Regions from separate parts of the Homo sapiens genome. Here regions 1 and 3 are each linked to region 2. Evidence: fine-mapped expression QTL. A gene starts in region 2. Each other region holds a variant in brackets. All regions are shown on one strand. Distances are between the middles of the regions.

Region 1 (2,752 bases), 53 kb before region 2:
CCTCCCCTTCCTAAACCAAGGTATACAAGTTAATCAAGCCCCTTCCTCAGGGCCGAGAGAATTTTGAGCGTTAGCCGTCTCTTTGGCTGCCGGCTTAAATAAAGGACTCAATTCGTTTCAGAGTGTGGCGTCTTCTCTAACTCGCCTGGGTACAACAACAGGAAACTGCCCACCGCAGTGCCGTGATCACAATGGCGAACAACATGAAGGACCATTGGTAAGAAAATCGCTAGGTGCGTTATGGTGTGGCCGCTTGATAAAACATGCAGCCATTTAGATTCTGTTCGTGAAGAATTGTAATGGCGTGGGAAAATATTTATGGTAGAACCAAAAGGAAGAAAGAATTCTCCTGGAGAAACAGTCGCATGAGGGGTAGACCCTGGAAGGCCGTGCTCCACCTGGCCAGTTACAGAGCGGGATACCGAGTGCCCAGAGGCTTACCAGGCTATGTCCCAGGACGCGCTGAGGGTGCTGGCTGCCTGGCCTCACTGGCTGAGCAGGCCCACCACAGCGGCAAGCAAGGCTCAGAGGGCTCGGCAGTGTGAAAGGAAAATATCACTAAGCTAAAGGGAGAAGTCAAGCTGGGAACTGCTCAGGGCAAACCTGCCTCCCATTCTATTCAAAGTCACCCTTTGCTCACTGAGATGAATGCGTATCTCACTGCCTCCTTTGGAGAGGCTCATCAGAAATTCAAAAGAATGCAACCATCTGTCTCTTACCTACCTATGACCCGGAAGCCTCCTCCCCACTTGGAGTTGTCCCGCCTCTGCAGATGGAACCACTGTTCATCTTACATATGTTGATTGATGTCTCCTGTCTCCCTACAATGTGTAAAACCGAGGTGTGCTCTGACCACCTCGGAACACGTCGTCAGGACCTCCTGAGGCTGTGTCACCGGTGCGCATCCTCAACCTTGGCAAAATAAACCTTCTAAATTAACTGAGACCTGTCTGAGATTTTCTGGGTTCACATTTTGGTAACCACAGGGAGATTCTGAGTGGAGATGCCTCTGACCTTTGACAAAACTCCTATCGGTACTTGGTACTGGAATGAGCTAACTTTATGGCTCAAACCAACAGGACAATTTGCCGAGGTCTGGGAGCATCCCCTCCAGAGAATCCCTGATCTCCCCAAATTTGG[T/C]CAAGATCTAAAGTTTATTTTGCTGTACAATGTTGGCAGAAGAGCTGAGGCGGGGCTTGCTTGTCTGACATAATGTAAAAGAGTCTTGGAACATGTCCTGGGTCCAGAGTCTAAAACCCCTCATGACCTTTGGAACACCAAGCTCTGTGCCAATGGGTGGAAGGCTGCCCTGCCGCACTACAGTCTAAGCCCAGGGCATAAAACCCCTCGTGGCTTGGAGAGAACCCAGGGCCCAGGGCATAAAACCCCTGGTGGCTTGGAGAGAACCCAGGGCTCAGGGCATAAAACCCCTCGTGGCTTGGAAAGAACCCAGGGCTCAGGGCATAAAACCCCTTCTAGCCTCTGGAATTGTGTCCAGACTTGCTGGCCCCTTGCTCCTTGCTCTCCCAAGATCATAAATTGATTTTATCTTGAATTAGAAGAACCTGTTCTCCCTTACCTCAAGTAGCGGAGCATATGCGAAACCGTCACAGCTACGCTTGATGCACCGCTACCTTTCTACCCCTACGTCCTCACGCCCTCACCTGTCTACCCCCACAGCCACACGTCCTCACTACCTGCTTCTTTACTTGATTACCAATAAACAGTGTGGGCTCCCAGAGCTGGGGGCCTTTGCAGCCTCCATACACCAGCGTGGGCCCCCTGGACCCACCCTATGTACTCTTGTCTCATTCCTTTGACTCTGCTGGACTTCGTAGCCCCCATGACCTGGTGTTGGGTCTGATCACCCCAACGGTACAACTCCCTTTTTTTGGAGTTTTACTTGCTTCCAACAAGGAAGGCAAGTTTCTCCTGCTTCATGATGATGGAAGGCAGGTAACTCCTTTATGGAGTTTGCACTCACTTCCAACAGGGAAGATGAGGGTTTTTTTTTTTTTTCCTGCTTCTAGGATGGTAGAGAGCAGTCTTTAGCCTGAGACCTATCCCTAGGTAAGTAACTGAATTGGCATTTGCCTTGGCTAAAGTTAAGATTAGCAACCAGGCCGGGCATGGTGGCTCACGCCTGTAATCCCAGCACTTTGGGAGGCCGAGGTGGGCAGATCACCTGAGGTCGGGAGTTCAAGACCAGCCTGACCAACATGGAGAAACCCCATCTCTACTAAAAATACAAAATTAGCCGGGCGTGGTGGCTCATGCCTGTAATCTGAGCGCTTTGGGAGGCTTAGGCAGGCGAATCACCTGGGTCAGGAGTTCGAGATCAGCCTAACATGCAGAAACCCTGTCTCTACTAAAAATACAAAAAATTAGCCAGGCATGGTGGCACATGCCTGTAATCCCAGCTACTCAGGAGGCTGAGGCAGGAGAATCACTTGAACCTGGGAGGCGGAGGGTGCGGTGAGCAGAGATCACACCACTGCACTCCAGCCTGGGTGACACGAGCAAAACTCTGTCTAAAAAAAACAACTCCAAAAATTAGCCAGGCGTGGTGATGCGCACCTGTGGTCCCAGCTACTGGAGCAGCTGAGACGGGAGGATTGCTTCAGCCTAGGGGTAGGAGGAGATTGCAGTGAGCTGAGATTGCACCATTGCACTTCAGCCTGGGCAACAAAGCGAGACCGAGACCGTGTCTCAAAATAAATAAGTAAAAACTACATGAATGAAGGACGAGCTA
Region 2 (2,752 bases):
AGGTGTCTCGGTGGCTTCAGTGGGGGCCCCAAGCCCAGCTGGCAGGCCTGGTGACTCAACAATCTGGGATGGGGAGCACGGTACCCTCGCCTCCCCGGCAGGCAATACCCCATAGGGGACCCATTCCCGCAGCTGTCCACGGTGCCTCGCACCCCTCTGCTGCTCTCCCTCCTCAGAAACTGATGAATCGCCTGGTGCAGGAAGATGGGAGCACCACCTGCCCTGGGCGGGAGCACCACCTGCCCTGGGCGGGAGCACCACCTGCCCTGGGCGGGAGCACCACCTGCCCTGGGCGGGAGCACCACCTGCCCTGGGCGGGAGCAGCACGGGCCAACTAAGTAGAGTCTTCATCTGTGAAGTTGGAGGCCCCCTCACCACTTGCCACAGGCCTGTGTTCTGCTCACAGGCACGTGCCCTCATCTTGATGTTTGGGGATGGGGGTGGTTGGGCCCCAGGTAGGGGTGAGGGCCAGACCCAGCCTCTGTGAATGCCAGCGGGAGGGTGGGCTTGTAACATTACATAGAAAGAACAGGCGGCCTTACTGGACCTGATGTCCCGCAAGGCTGGGCTGCAGATGGAGAGCCAAGGCCCACACGGCCTCACTGTCAGGGGTGGCCTCCCCTTGCCCTCTGGAGGGGTCCTCCATTGATACCCCCTGCCTCCTTTGTGTGTGAAGGCACGGGCTTACCAGTGCCTCGGTCCCCGAAGCCCCCGGGTCCGGGAGGGGCCAGTTAAAGCATTCCTGTGGCCCTGGCAGGGTGGCCCTGACAACTAGACTCCTTGGTCCAGGCCAACAAAGGCCTTACTCCCTGGAGCCACCTCAAACCTCAGCACCCAAAGCGGCCCGTTATTTCCATGTTGCAAATGAGAGAAAACAGGCTGGGAGAAGCACCTCACGAGGTCCAGCGGGTGGGCAGCCCTCGCCTCCCCGAAGGTGGGAGCCGCCCCGGCCTCCGCGTCGGGTTCTGGGCCGCGAGAGGGGCGGGGCAGGGGCGCAGGGCTGGAGTCGGTGGCTTTGTAGGGCCCCGCAGGGCGCGGAGCCACCTGGGGAAACGGAAGTTCAGGGAGGGCGAGGCCGTGCCCCACATCCAGGCAGCGCAGGCCGCGGGCCGCTCCCCTAGCCAGGAAGAGCCGCCGTCCGCACCGGGACCGGAGAGGAAGCGGAGGTCTGAAGGGGGACAGGTCGGACGTGGCCTCAGAGAGGGAGGATGTGGGCCCCGGAGCTGAGCCAGGCGGCCGGAACCCCACGGGACCCGCGCGCACCTCCCCACCAAAGGGGCCCCGGCGTTGGGGGGCGAGGGGTCGCTGCCCTGGAGGACGTTGGGACCTGCCGCGCTGCGCTCCGAGGCGGGGAAACGGAGGGACGGCGGGGCGGAGGGGCGAAGCGAGCCTGGACTCCGGGGGAGGCGAGGCCGGGAAGACCCAGTCCCGAGGAGCAGAGGGGGCGGGCCAGCTCCGGGCCGGGGGCGCCGACGGGGCCGGTTCCGGTTGGGGGGGTCCCTGGGCCCGGCGGGGTTGCGGGACGCGCCGTCGGGGAGCTGCGGCCCGGGAGCCCGTCCGGAGGCGGCGCGGGGTCCGGGCGGGGCGCGCAGGGGCGGCGCCAGGCGGTGACGTGCGCGGGGGACGTGCCGCGCCAGCGACCCGAGCACTTAAAGTCGCCCCCGGCGCGGAGCGGACCGGCAGAGGCGGGCAGAGGCGGCGAGAGGCGGCGAGAGGCGGGCTGAGGCGGCCCAGCGGCGGCAGGTAGGCGCGGCCGCGATGCTCGCGCGCGGGCCGGGGCCCAGGAGCTCCCCCGTGCCGGGCAAGGGGGCGACCTCGGGGTCCGCGCTCTCACCCCCACCCCGCCCACTTTGTCCATCAGGTCCGGGGGCGCCCGGGGCATGGACTAGCCTTCTCGACCCCGAGCGGGCCCCACCGAGGGCTCCCGAGAGCCAGCCGCGCCCCTCCGCGCCCTCGCATACCTGGCTGCCCAGTCTCGTCTCCCCCGGTCCGGCCCGGCGCCCACCCGTCGGGCTGCCCTCAGGGGCTGGGCTCGGGCCAGGAGATGGCTGCGCCGGCGGCCAAGCCCGGTCCGGGTATAAATAGCTCGGTCCGCGGTGGCGGGGGGCGCGGGCTATATTTGGTGGGGCTGCTGCAGCCCTCCCTGTATGGGTGGCCTCCCCGAGGGAGTGGGGAGCACTTGCGCTCGGGCCGTGGCGCTTTCCCCTGTTCGCAACACCCTGAACACTCCCCGACCCACACCCGCCCTTGGGCAATGACTAACAGCCCGAGACCGTGCAGGGAAGTGGGGGACCCTCTCCAGAGCCAGGCTGGGCTCCCTGGGTTCGCCCTACCTCCACCCCTGGCCCCCAGCTCGTGGGAAAACCAGGCGCAGCCTTTGGTAGCCTCCCACTTCCTAACCCACGCCTCAGTTTCCCTATACGAAAAGTGGGTTGGTCAGGAGCCTCCCTGGGTGTTGGGCCAGTCAAGAGACAGGAGCCGCAGAGTGGAAGGGAAGCCCTTAGCTCTGGCCGGGGCCTCCAGGGGTGGCTGGAGTCGGTGAGGGACGATGGGGGGAGCCGAGGGGCGGCTGTCCTCCTCTCTGTCCCAGAGGCATGGGCTGAAAGGGTCCCTCTCCTGGTGATGGCCAGAGTCAGGCCTGCTGGGCGGGAAATGGCAGTTGGCCCACCCCAAGGCCCAGGGGCTTGTCCATGCTGAGCACAAGGGTGGGAGGTCTTGTGTCTGTTGGGGCCGGGGAGTCCAAGGTCCCAGC
Region 3 (2,752 bases), 69 kb after region 2:
TGTTCTCTGGCCACTAGAGCCAGGCAGCCCCCTAGCTGGTCTTACACTGCATACCTGTGTCTGAGTACTCATTTCACCCGTCGGCCAGGATCTGCGGGACAGACCCGGCATTCTTCGTTATCCATTCATTCGTTGACGGACACTTAGGCGAGTTCCGTACCTTGATTGCAGTGACTAATGCTGCCCTAATGGCATTTCATTGGAAATGAACTATTACAGGAGGGTTTTTGAAGTGGCTTATGATCCAGAAAAGGAATCTTCCAATACCTCTGTGCCCCAAAACCTTGGGTAAAATACCAACAGTGCAGTTGGTCTAAAAGGCACCACTTAAATTGCGTTGCAGATGACGTTGCTAAGGATGGCTTTCTGGTCTCCTGGTTCTGGGCAGCTCCCTGCACTGCTGGTTTCAGTCATGTTGCAAGGAGAGTATTAGCAACTCAGTAGTGATGAGGTTTAGTGGACATTTTATTTAACGTTCTGTCAAATAGGCCAAATGAAATGTTACATATGAAAAGAGCCTATATTCTGATTTCTGCCTGGGGATGTAAACATTAGCTTGCATGATGCCTGGAAGCCCCGGAACCTGAGCTCCCAACCACCTGCCAGCTGCTGGCTGCCCCTCCCTCCCTCCTCTCCACCCCCCTCAGCCTCCTCTTCCTCCTCCCATCCTTCCTTCCCTTCCCGCCTTCCCCCAGCGCCCCATGAAGCTAGTTTTAGAATGGCTTTTTGGAGCAGTTATGTTATAAGGATTGGCAGCTCATGAGTTTAATATTCTTATGGGTCTTCCAAAGTGCAAAGAGAACACAAAGTTACTTTTGCTTTTGTAATAGAGTAAAACGCATCCTATCCTGACCTAAGATGCACAAATCAACCCATCTTGTCAGGCAGATAAACTTCTCATAAACCTGTAAAACATATGACTTATGTATCCCAGTGGTCTTATCTTTCCTATCATGAGATGTCTGCTAGTCCATCATCCTGGAATTATCCATGGAATTATCACCCATCCATGGCTCCCAGCTATGCCACAGTGACTGCAATCCTAAGATTGGGCATCCGGAAGGATGGCCCAACACCGTGCCACCCTGCAGCTTTGCCGCAAGCTGCCCTGGGTCCTGCATCCTCTTCGAGGTGGAATGAGAACACAGCCGAGAGCTCAGGATCTTCCAACTGCTGCCCACAGTGGCAAAAAGAAACCTGGTGGGAGAAGATGAGTCAGACGGAGCCAGGAGCCCGCGGCCGGTGACGCCAGCGGTGGGGGAACACAATGTCCTGTGGGTGATCGGTGAGCGAGCGGACGGTGGATTTCTCCTGCAGTCGGTGGCAGGAAGGATGTCATCACGCGCTATTTTGTGACCAGCCCCTGGACCACAACTCACGTGAGCAGAAGGGCTTTCTTCTTTGCTTAAGATGTCTGTGCTTGCAAACTTACTGGCCACAGGTACAAGGAGGTTTTCTTTGCTTATGTTCATATTAAACATGTTAATAAAGGTTTTTCTTATTGTCCTTGTTTTTACATTTATAAATTACTCATAAGCTGACGAAACAGAAAACAGAGACTCATCTCCGGTTCCCGGTACAGTGAGGTGAGAGCTGCTGTGCTGGGTGCGGGAAGCGCCTGGCCCCAGGTTCCTCCTGGACGGAGGCCAGAAGGGCTGAGCAAGAGCCAGCGAGGCTGGGGAGGAGGAGGA[G/A]GCGCTGGAACAGGAACGGCCGGCCGGGAGGGGCGAGGCTGGGGGACAGTCACGCAGGGCTGAGGCGGGCGTGTGGTGCGGGAGCGTGTGTGTGCAGGAAGCTTGTGTGCGTGCGTGTGGGGAGCGGGTCTGGTGAGGGCGCACTTGGGCCTGAGCCCCTTCCGGCCCCTCGTGTTTGCTGGAGGCTGCGTGTGCTGTGTCCCCACCCCAGATGCTTGCCCTGAGGGGCAGGTTTCCATCCAACACCCCGATTGTCTCCTTCAGTAAACCCCCGGCACCGTCTACCCGGAAGTTGTGGGCTGGGAGGGATGACATGCCCTGGGGACTGTGAGCAGTGGAACCCACGTCATTGCAAGGAAATGATCACACAAACACCAGCTCGGCAGAGTGGAACCTTTGCCAAACCTCAGAGCTGCAGCGAGCGGCTGGGCAACCTTCCTGAGGACGGCGCCCCCTCGCCCAGCTCCAAGCTCCTCCCTGTCCCCACAGGATATCCCTGGACCTGGCGGGTCACTCTAGCCAGAGCAGCCTTCCACAGTCCTCCAGGGTCAGAGCTACAGTTGAGGACCCTGTAGGTGGTAGAGGTGCCCGGGGCCGGGCTCTGGGGCTGGCAGAGGCAATGTCAGCGCCTGCCACCTGCGATGTGGCCAGGGAACTTGGGGCTGAGCAAGGGCACAGAGGGGAGAGTGTGGCATGAGGGAGAGGCGGGACCCCGCAGAGGCTCCCACACCTTCCAAGGCAGCAGAGGAGAAGGGGAGGCTGCCAACAGCCAGACCAGGGCTCCAGGGGGGCGGCAGGGGGCCCAGGGAGCTCCGGGAAATGGGACAGCCACTGTCCACCTGCAGAACGCTGGCTTAAGCCTTGCAGACGGGCCCAGTGGGCAGGGTCGTGATTTTCACTCCCGAAGGGCCTGGGGTGACAAGCCGGAGGTCTGGGAGATGGGACTGGAGACCGTGTTCAGAAGGAGGAGCTCTCCACTCTGTTGGCAAAAGCCCTGGAGCTCCAGGCATCCACAGTGACCGAATGTTGGTAAAGTCCCAGAGGACGGGACCCAGGGCATG

What was found. PIP is the estimated chance that this variant, and not a neighbour inherited with it, causes the effect. A credible set is the group of variants that fine-mapping cannot tell apart.
Region 1: its variant is the best candidate, but not a certain one, in a credible set for the expression of SLC16A3 in whole blood (INTERVAL, PIP 0.80).
Region 3: its variant is the best candidate, but not a certain one, in a credible set for the expression of SLC16A3 in whole blood (INTERVAL, PIP 0.87).

Annotation. Positions count from the first base shown.
Region 1 is chr17:82,174,843-82,177,594 of GRCh38, forward strand. All of the region lies in intron 10 of CCDC57 (coiled-coil domain containing 57), which reads right to left. Among named protein-coding and RNA genes, the nearest start is that of CCDC57, 37 kb to the right of the region's middle. RefSeq lists an enhancer at 292-1,081. The variant T/C (reference allele first, on the strand shown) is at 1,141.
Region 2 is chr17:82,227,364-82,230,115 of GRCh38, forward strand. SLC16A3 (solute carrier family 16 member 3) reads left to right here and starts at 1,679. Exons shown (of 5, transcript NM_004207.4): 1 at 1,679-1,743. RefSeq lists silencers at 735-964, 1,055-1,134, 1,185-1,324, 1,485-1,804, 1,925-2,084 and 1 more.
Region 3 is chr17:82,296,291-82,299,042 of GRCh38, forward strand. No RefSeq gene overlaps it. Among named protein-coding and RNA genes, the nearest start is that of LINC01970, 4.9 kb to the left of the region's middle. RefSeq lists an enhancer at 1,647-2,278. The variant G/A (reference allele first, on the strand shown) is at 1,692.